Linked DNA regions of Homo sapiens. The protein of the gene in region 2 interacts with the protein of the main gene of each other region in a pairwise test. Each region holds a gene or a part of one and is shown on either strand. Other genes may lie near its edges.

The links.
Region 1: the proteins of FAM20C (region 2) and FAM118B interact in a two-hybrid assay, tested with the Homo sapiens proteins (one large-scale study listed by BioGRID and IntAct).

The regions. Positions count from the first base shown.
Region 1 is NC_000011.10:126,249,582-126,253,394, reverse strand, and holds part of FAM118B (protein FAM118B), read right to left. Parts: intron 2,890-3,813; coding exon 2,662-2,889; intron 1-2,661. UniProt on the Homo sapiens protein: May play a role in Cajal bodies formation.
Region 2 is NC_000007.14:195,494-199,306, forward strand, and holds part of FAM20C (extracellular serine/threonine protein kinase FAM20C precursor), read left to right. Parts: intron 1-60; coding exon 61-239; intron 240-1,639; coding exon of another isoform or gene 1,640-2,007; exon of another isoform or gene 2,008-3,813. UniProt on the Homo sapiens protein: Golgi serine/threonine protein kinase that phosphorylates secretory pathway proteins within Ser-x-Glu/pSer motifs and plays a key role in biomineralization of bones and teeth.

The DNA.
Region 1 (3,813 bases), on a different chromosome or scaffold from region 2:
CAGCATACATTTATTCTTATCACATTTTGGAGAAATAGGCTATGAATCAGGAAAGTAGTCAAGAGGCACCGAGATTTAGAATTTGAATGTTACTAGGCCCCATTCTGACTACCAGTCAATGTCTTTAACCATTAGACTGCAACACTGCCCCTAATGTGGGCTGAAAATACAATGCAAATCTTGAGGCCCAAGGATGAAATGAGAAGGAAAACATCAAATGTGATAGATATCCTCAGCTTTTAAAAGGTCCTTATGCTTCTGATATCCATGAACACACTTGGTCATAATCTTTGGAAATTTTATCACAAATAGCATAGAAGCTGCTAGTTTTAAAATTTCAATCATTTGTTTGTTTGTTTTTAGACAGAGTCTTGGTCTGTTGCCCAGATTGGAGCACAGTGGCGCAATCTTGGCTCACTGAAACCTCTGCCTCCTGGGTTCAAATGATTCTCCTGCCTCAGCCTCCCAAGTAACTGGGATTACAGGCGTGCACCACCACTCCCAGCTAGTTTTTGTATTCTTAGTAAAGACGGGGTTTCACCATGTTGGACAGGCTGGTCTCAAAATCCTGACCTCAAGTGATCCACCCACCTCGGCCACCCAAAATGCTGGGATTACAGACGTGAACCACTGTGCCCAGCCTATTTATTTAGAGACATGATCTTATGCTGTCACCCAGGCTGGAGTGCAACAGTGTGATCACAACTCACTGTAGCCTCGACTGCCTCAGCTCAATCGATCGTCCTGCTTCAGCCTCCCAAGTAGCTGGGACCACAGGCAAACACCACCATGCCCGGCTAATTTTTAAACTTTTTGTAGAGATGGGGTCTTGCTATGATGCCCAGGTTGGTCTTGAACTAGGCTCAAGTGATCCTCCCGCCTCAGCTTCCCAAAGTGCTGGGGTTACAGGCCTGAGCTGCTGTGCCCAGCCCAATCATTTATTAATCAAAAAAATATTTACCAAGCACCTAACTGTCATATTTGAGACATGAGGGTTGTATTTGAGTTATGAGGGTAAGAAAGACTAACATGATACCTATCCAAGTGAAGTTACTATTCCTATGGGGTAAACAGTCAGAAAACAGATAAACAGCCAAGATAAAAACTGTGCTGGGTGTGGTGGCTCATGCCTGTAATCCCAGCACTTTGGGAGGCTAAGGTGGGCAGATCACCTGAGGTCAGGAGTTCGAGACCAGCCTGGCCAACATGGTGAAACCCTGTCTCTACTGAAAATACAAAAATTAGCCAGACGTGATGGCGGGTGCCTGTAATCCCAGCTATTCGGGACGCTGAGGCAGGAGAATCGCTTGAACCCAGGAGGAGGAGGTTGCAGTGAGCTGAGATCATGCCATTGCACTTCAGCCTGGGCGACAAGAGCAAAACTCCATCTCAAAACAAAACAAAACAAAACAAAACAAAACGGCCAGGCACATGCCTGTAATCCCAGTACTTTGGGAGGCTGAGGTTAGCAGATCACCTGAGGTCAGGAGTTTGAGACTAGCCTGACCAACATGGAGAAACCCCGTCTCTACCAAAAATACAAAATTAGCCGGGCGTTGTGGCACATGCCTGTAATCCCAGCTACTCAGGAGGGTGAGGCAGGAGAATCACTTGAACCCAGGGCAACAAGAGCGAAACTGTCTCTCAAAAAAAAAAAAAAAAAGCTGCAAGTTAATACTAAGTGCTACAAAGGAAACGGACAAGAGACTGGATAAAAAAAATAAGTATCCAATTTAAATAGGATGGTCAGAGAAGGTCTCTCAGGAGGGGATCCCTAGGTTGAGAGTTATAAATGAAGAAGGAGCTGACCATACAGAATATGAGGGCGTAGGCGGAAGACACTTGGACCAGAGAAAACTAGTCTTCATGGGGCAGCTTTTCTCTAAATTCAATTCCCTTTAAATCCTGCCATCAAGGTCAGCAAAACCACAAGAGTGGTATTTCAGCTACCACTCTGGCAGGGGCAATACTGTAGTACTGAATGCCAGCAGGCAAATCACTTGTCTATTCAACTCTACTTAGTTGGGCTCTAAATTGGACATAAAGGCAGATTCCTGAGGAAAACAAAGTGTAGGAAAAAACATTACAAAAATCACAGAGTAGGACCAATGAGACTTTAAGAACTCATCTCATTAGCTGACACAGATCAACATCTATAATTCAATAATTATGGTAGGTACAGTATAGACTATGCTAAAACAAAGTCTGCTGAGGTTTCCACTAAACATTAACCTCAATTCAGCCATCGCTTGGCCTGGAAGTTGTTCTTCCAATCAGTATAAAGTAGTTTTCATACATTTCCAATAGATGCCATAAAAAAAGGTATCCTAAAATAGAACCAGCATTATCAATATTACACCACTGAATACTGTCAAGTGCTAAAGAGATCTTACAGTTCAAGTGACTTCCTCTAATCTTGCTTTAAAACTGGATGAAATTGTCAAGAGTCATAGAACTGAACACTTTTAAGTTCTATGCATTTTACTGTATATTGATTTGATCTTTAAAAAGAAAGAAAAAAGAAAAACAAAAACTCCAACCAGGGAAAAAATTTTTCCTTTCTAGCTCTACATAAATACCAATATACCAACTAGAAAAGAGCTTTTCTGAGGAAGATAAAATCCACTAGCCTGAAGAAGGGACCAATGCTTTACTTTTTACCTTTTTCTCATCAGTAAGGTCAAGGGATTCAAGCTGTTTCCCCTGATCTGCTGCATACAGTTCCAAGAGATTATCAAAATTTGTAGTTAATACGAGGGCTCCATTTTCCATCAGGTGGAGAACTGACTGAAGTAGCTGTTTTCCAGAATCTTCCATCTTTGACTCCAAGTCATCAAATACTTCATATAAACAGTCCTTGAAAAATGTGGATCGAACATTACTGGTACGCTGAGGAGGGATTTGAAAAAAGAAAATTAGTCCAAAGTGCTTTGGTAGGTCAGTTGTTTTAGTTACAGCAGTAACAAATTTTGGAAGAATATTTTGAATTCAAAACAGAGATAAAGGCCAGGCGCAGTGGCTCACGCCTGTAATCCCAGCACTTTGGGAGACCGAGGCGGGCGGATCACGAGGTCAGGAGATCGAGACCATCCTGGCTAACACGGTGAAACCCCGTCTCTACTAAAAATAAAAAAAATTAGCAGGGCGTGGTGACAGGCGCCTGTAGTCCCAGCTACTTGGGAGGCTGAGGCAGGAGAATGGTGTGAACCCAGGAGGCGGAGCTTGCAGTGAGCCGAGATCGCGTCACTGCACTCCAGCCTGGGCGACGGAGCGAGACTCCATCTCAAAAAAAAAAAAAAAAATCCCGGGGATAAAATATTATCTATCTCATACGAACGTAATAAGGAAGATGAGATGATACATGCCAAGTGCTTAGCACAATGCTTAGCAGATAGCAAGTGCTACTATACGTAAGCTTCCTAAAATAGGCATTTTTATAGAATGAAGAAAATAAACCTGGCCAAGGGATATGAATTTACTGTCGGTATTAAAGGGAAGCTGGGGTACAAAGCAGAGCGACAACTACCCTCTCATGAGGTGCCAGGTAAGAAGGCAACACTTTCCGTTCATCTTGCCTTATGTAGGGAAACGCCACTGAGACACAGCCCTAATTGTGGTTTGGCATCTCCTTTTCTTTTTCTTTTTTTTTTTTTTTTTTTTTTTGAGACGGAGTCTCATTCTGTCACCCAGGCTGGAGTGCAGTGGCGTGATCTCGGCTCACTGCAACCTCCGCCCCGCCAGGTTCAAGCAATTCTCCTGCCTCAGCTTCCCAAGTAGCTGGGATTACAGGCGCCTGCCACTGTGCTCAGCTAA
Region 2 (3,813 bases):
TCATCCGACTCACGGGCCTGTTCTTTCCATGCTGATGTTCGTCCTCGCTGCTCCCTGCAGGCCGCATGCGGGTGCTGAAGGTGCAGAATTCCTCTCCCCCGGGGAGGCGGCCGTGGACTCCTATCCCAACTGGCTCAAGTTCCACATTGGTATCAACCGGTACGAGCTGTACTCCAGACACAACCCGGCCATCGAGGCCCTGCTGCACGACCTCAGCTCCCAGAGGATCACCAGCGTGGGTAGGTGTCCTTGGGTGCACTCAGGGCCGTCTGTGTGCCGGCTGTGTGGCATCAGGGCTGCTGGGGCAGGCTATGTGTTAGAGAGGTCTGGGAGGCCGTTGCTCATTACGGCAGCGTCACCTCCTGCAGCAATCTGCACGGGCAGCGAGGAGGGACAGAGGGCTCGCGTCTCGTGTGCTCTCACACTGGATGTGCTCCTGATCTGCCGCACGATGAGCGGGGAGACGCCTGGACAGCCGGTCCACTGCGCTCTGCGTCCTCACCTGGGTGGTCCCGGGGGTGCCAACTGGATGACAGAGTCCTTCCCTCCTGGGGTAGAGGAATAGAGGGGTATCTCTGGCGGCGGTGACCCCTCCACCGGAAGCGTGTGCATGGAACTCTCCTGCTTTTCTACACACGACCCTGGCTGGGTGGGGAGACAGCCATGAGCCTGCTTCTTGTGGTTTTGAAGCCGTCCTTCGTCAGACCTCAGCAAGGCGCTGTGCAGTTTCATACTGAGGAGACATAGGCAGGGCTCAGGACGGAGGCCTGGGCCTCCCAGATGGAGGAGTTTGAAGGCAACATCTCCAGGTACTTTGGGATCTGCTGAATTGGACAAAAAAGGGCATCCAGTTGCTGATTTCAGGAAAATATGCCACTGCAGCTTCTGAGCGTGGAGGTTTGGTGCCATTGTTCTCAGCTTGTAGGCGATTGTTTGTGAAGGTCCCATTTGTCACCAGTGCTTGGAGAGGTAGTGAGGGCGGGGCTGAGGCCCTTTAGTGGGAGCAGCTGCTCCCCGGGGATTGCAGGGAGTGGGCCTGGGTGCACACAGCTGTGGGCAGGTGCAGAGGCCATGACAGCCTGAAGGCAGGGCTTTCTTTGCGCTGTGTGATGAGGCCAGCAGTCCCAGGCATTAGCTTCATGTGTGTCTCAGAAGCAACCTTGGTGCTGAAAGGGTCCCAGCAGCCTGGGGTTCTGTCCAGTTGCTGACACAGGACTTAGGTGTCCCCTTTCAGGCCAGCAGGTAGGTTCTCCTGAGCTCTTCGGGGCTGTTTCTGGCTCTCTCTGCCGGGTGCTGAGTTGTTTGCTGGGCACTCACCTGGTCATGGGGAGACAGAACTTGCAGCTCTCTCCCCACCCCTTGATCAGCTCACCTCATAACAGAGATCAGCTGGACAAGCTGGGAGTCCTCTTCCCTCCATGCTGCCTGGGAGTAACCTGAACCCCTGCCCCCCTCCAGGCCCCCCTCCGTGAAAGCGCTGCCTTTCTCCTGCCCCTGCAGCGGTCTGAGGGCTTTCAGCTGTGCTGGGGAACAGTCCTGCAGACAGCCACAGCCAGAACGTCCCTTCTGCCCCTGAGAGTGAGCATGGCCATTAAGGAAATATCCGATGCATTGATCAACATGTTTGTCCATTCAGCAGATTTTACTGGCACCTCCTGCATGTCAGACCCCCTTTCTGGGTGGTGGGGAGTTGAGGATGAGTTCAGCCTCAACGAGATCTGCTGCCTCTGTGGACCTGACAGCCCCAGGAAGAGACACACACGCACAGTGCCCGATCCTGAGGAGGAACGAGCACTTCAGAGCCGTGCACGCCAGCCAGGCCGTGTGGAGAGGAGGGGGCTCCACTGGGAGGGGCTGAGGACCTTCCACAGGGTCTGTCGGGCAGCTTACCTTCCAGGTGGGTCCGTCTTGGCAGGGAGAGGAATGAGAGAGCCGTGCACACCAGCCAGGGCGTTCGGGAGGAGCAGCACGCAAGTTAGAAAGTCCCCAGTGCCGCTGTCCGTATGAGCTTCTCTCCAGCTCATTTTCCCCATCTGTCCAGTGGGATCTCGCTGCGTGGGACCAATGCAAGGATAGGATGAGATGTGCATGTGAGCAAGCTTGTTAAATATTAACTAGTACTTTGTGCGTGGCCTTCCACAACAGTCCCCTCGTGTGCACAGGCAGGGTCTGAGCAGAGGGAGGGCTTTGTGGATTCCAAAGGCCACCAGGCCCTTGGCAGGCAACTGCAGCTCGCCACCTCCCTCACCGACCGGTCAGCTTTCCAACACCAACACTGAAGAGGTGTGGGAGTTCTGTGCCAGGAGCTCCCAGAGCAGCTTCAGGGAGAGTGTGGGGCCCCCTGGGACCTGGGGCATCTTTGCCCACCTTAGGAGTGCTTTGTCCATCTGGACAAGCTAGGCTTGGCTCACTGCCACCCCTCTTTGGTCCAGCTGTCCCGGGGCAGTGGTGCCCAGGCTGCCTGACATTGCAGGGGTGTGGACAGAGCCCTTGCCAGGGAATCCCTACCCCAGGATTCTGGTGTGGCCTCCGCCTGGGTGTGTCCTGGTTAATTCCTGTGCCTACTGAAGGCCTGCCCCAGCTGATCTCGCTCGCTCGCCTCCTAGACCATGCTGGCCACATTGGTTCTCATCCAGTCTTCTGGGGTGGGGACCCGTCCAAGGACAGGCTGGCTGCTCAGTCATTCTGCAGGGCCAAGCAGGGCCTGCAAGGACGATGGGCAGACACAGCCGCATCACCCAGGCAGGACAGCAGGCTCTGGCCCAGGAGATCTGGGGGTGAATCCTGGCTCTGCCAGCCATTAGCCAGAGTGGAAGTGGGCAAATGGATTAACGCCTCCAGCACCTGGTTTCTCACCGAGAACACAGAGAAGGTTATAATCTGGACCTGGTATAATCTGGACTCTGACTTACAAATCTGAATGCCAAGCAAAACCCATTCACTAGCGAAAACTGACTCAGGCTGAACGTATTTAGGGGCAAAACCTAAATTGTCGAGGCTAGTTAAAAGTCCTGATTTTTCTCTGTTACATTGAATAGTCACATGTTCCTCTGAGGAACAGGAGTGGGTTTAATTATGGGGTTCTGCCCTAGACCCGTGTGGGCATGCCATGATCCACACCATGCACCACGTGTGCCTTTGTCATCGAAATACCTGCAGTTCCCAAATACATCTGGCCTCACAGGGTTGTTGGGGCTTAAATGTGCAAATACGAGTAAAGAGGTGAGAGCGGAGCCTGACAGCGCACCTGCTGGGCAGGGTCTCCAACACTGCAGCATTTTGGGGGAAGCTCTCCTACTGGGTGGGGTCTTTGTACAGCAGCAGCATTTCAAGGTGGGCTGATCCTTCTCATCTGGGGAAGCCAGGGCTGGGCAGGTGCCTGAGCCTCATGAGGGTCTCAGTCTAGATGCTGGGCCCTATTCTCCCTGCTGCCTTGGGCTTGGAGATGCTCACAGGTGAGTTCTCATTTGTGAAGAGGTCTGTCTTCCTGAGGAAGCAGGGGACCCTCACCTGTGAACCAAGTGTGCCATGGGAGCTGCTCCATGTCCAGGTCCAGGTCTCCTGGTCTGCAGGGAACGGCACAAGAGGGCTGGCCTAGGCCAGGAGGATGTGATCTGTCCTAGAAGGGGGCTGACCTGCTTGCTGACCCCGCTTGCTGCTGCCTGGCTGGCCTGACTCAGCCACGGCTGTTCCGAGGGCCCTTCTGAGTACGAACTTCCAGTTGGAGGATCTGGGTGAAGACCCAGCTGCTTGAGATAGCAGCCTCTGGCTAGGCCCTTGGCGTGGCCAAGCCAATCAGGCAGGTTTAGAGCC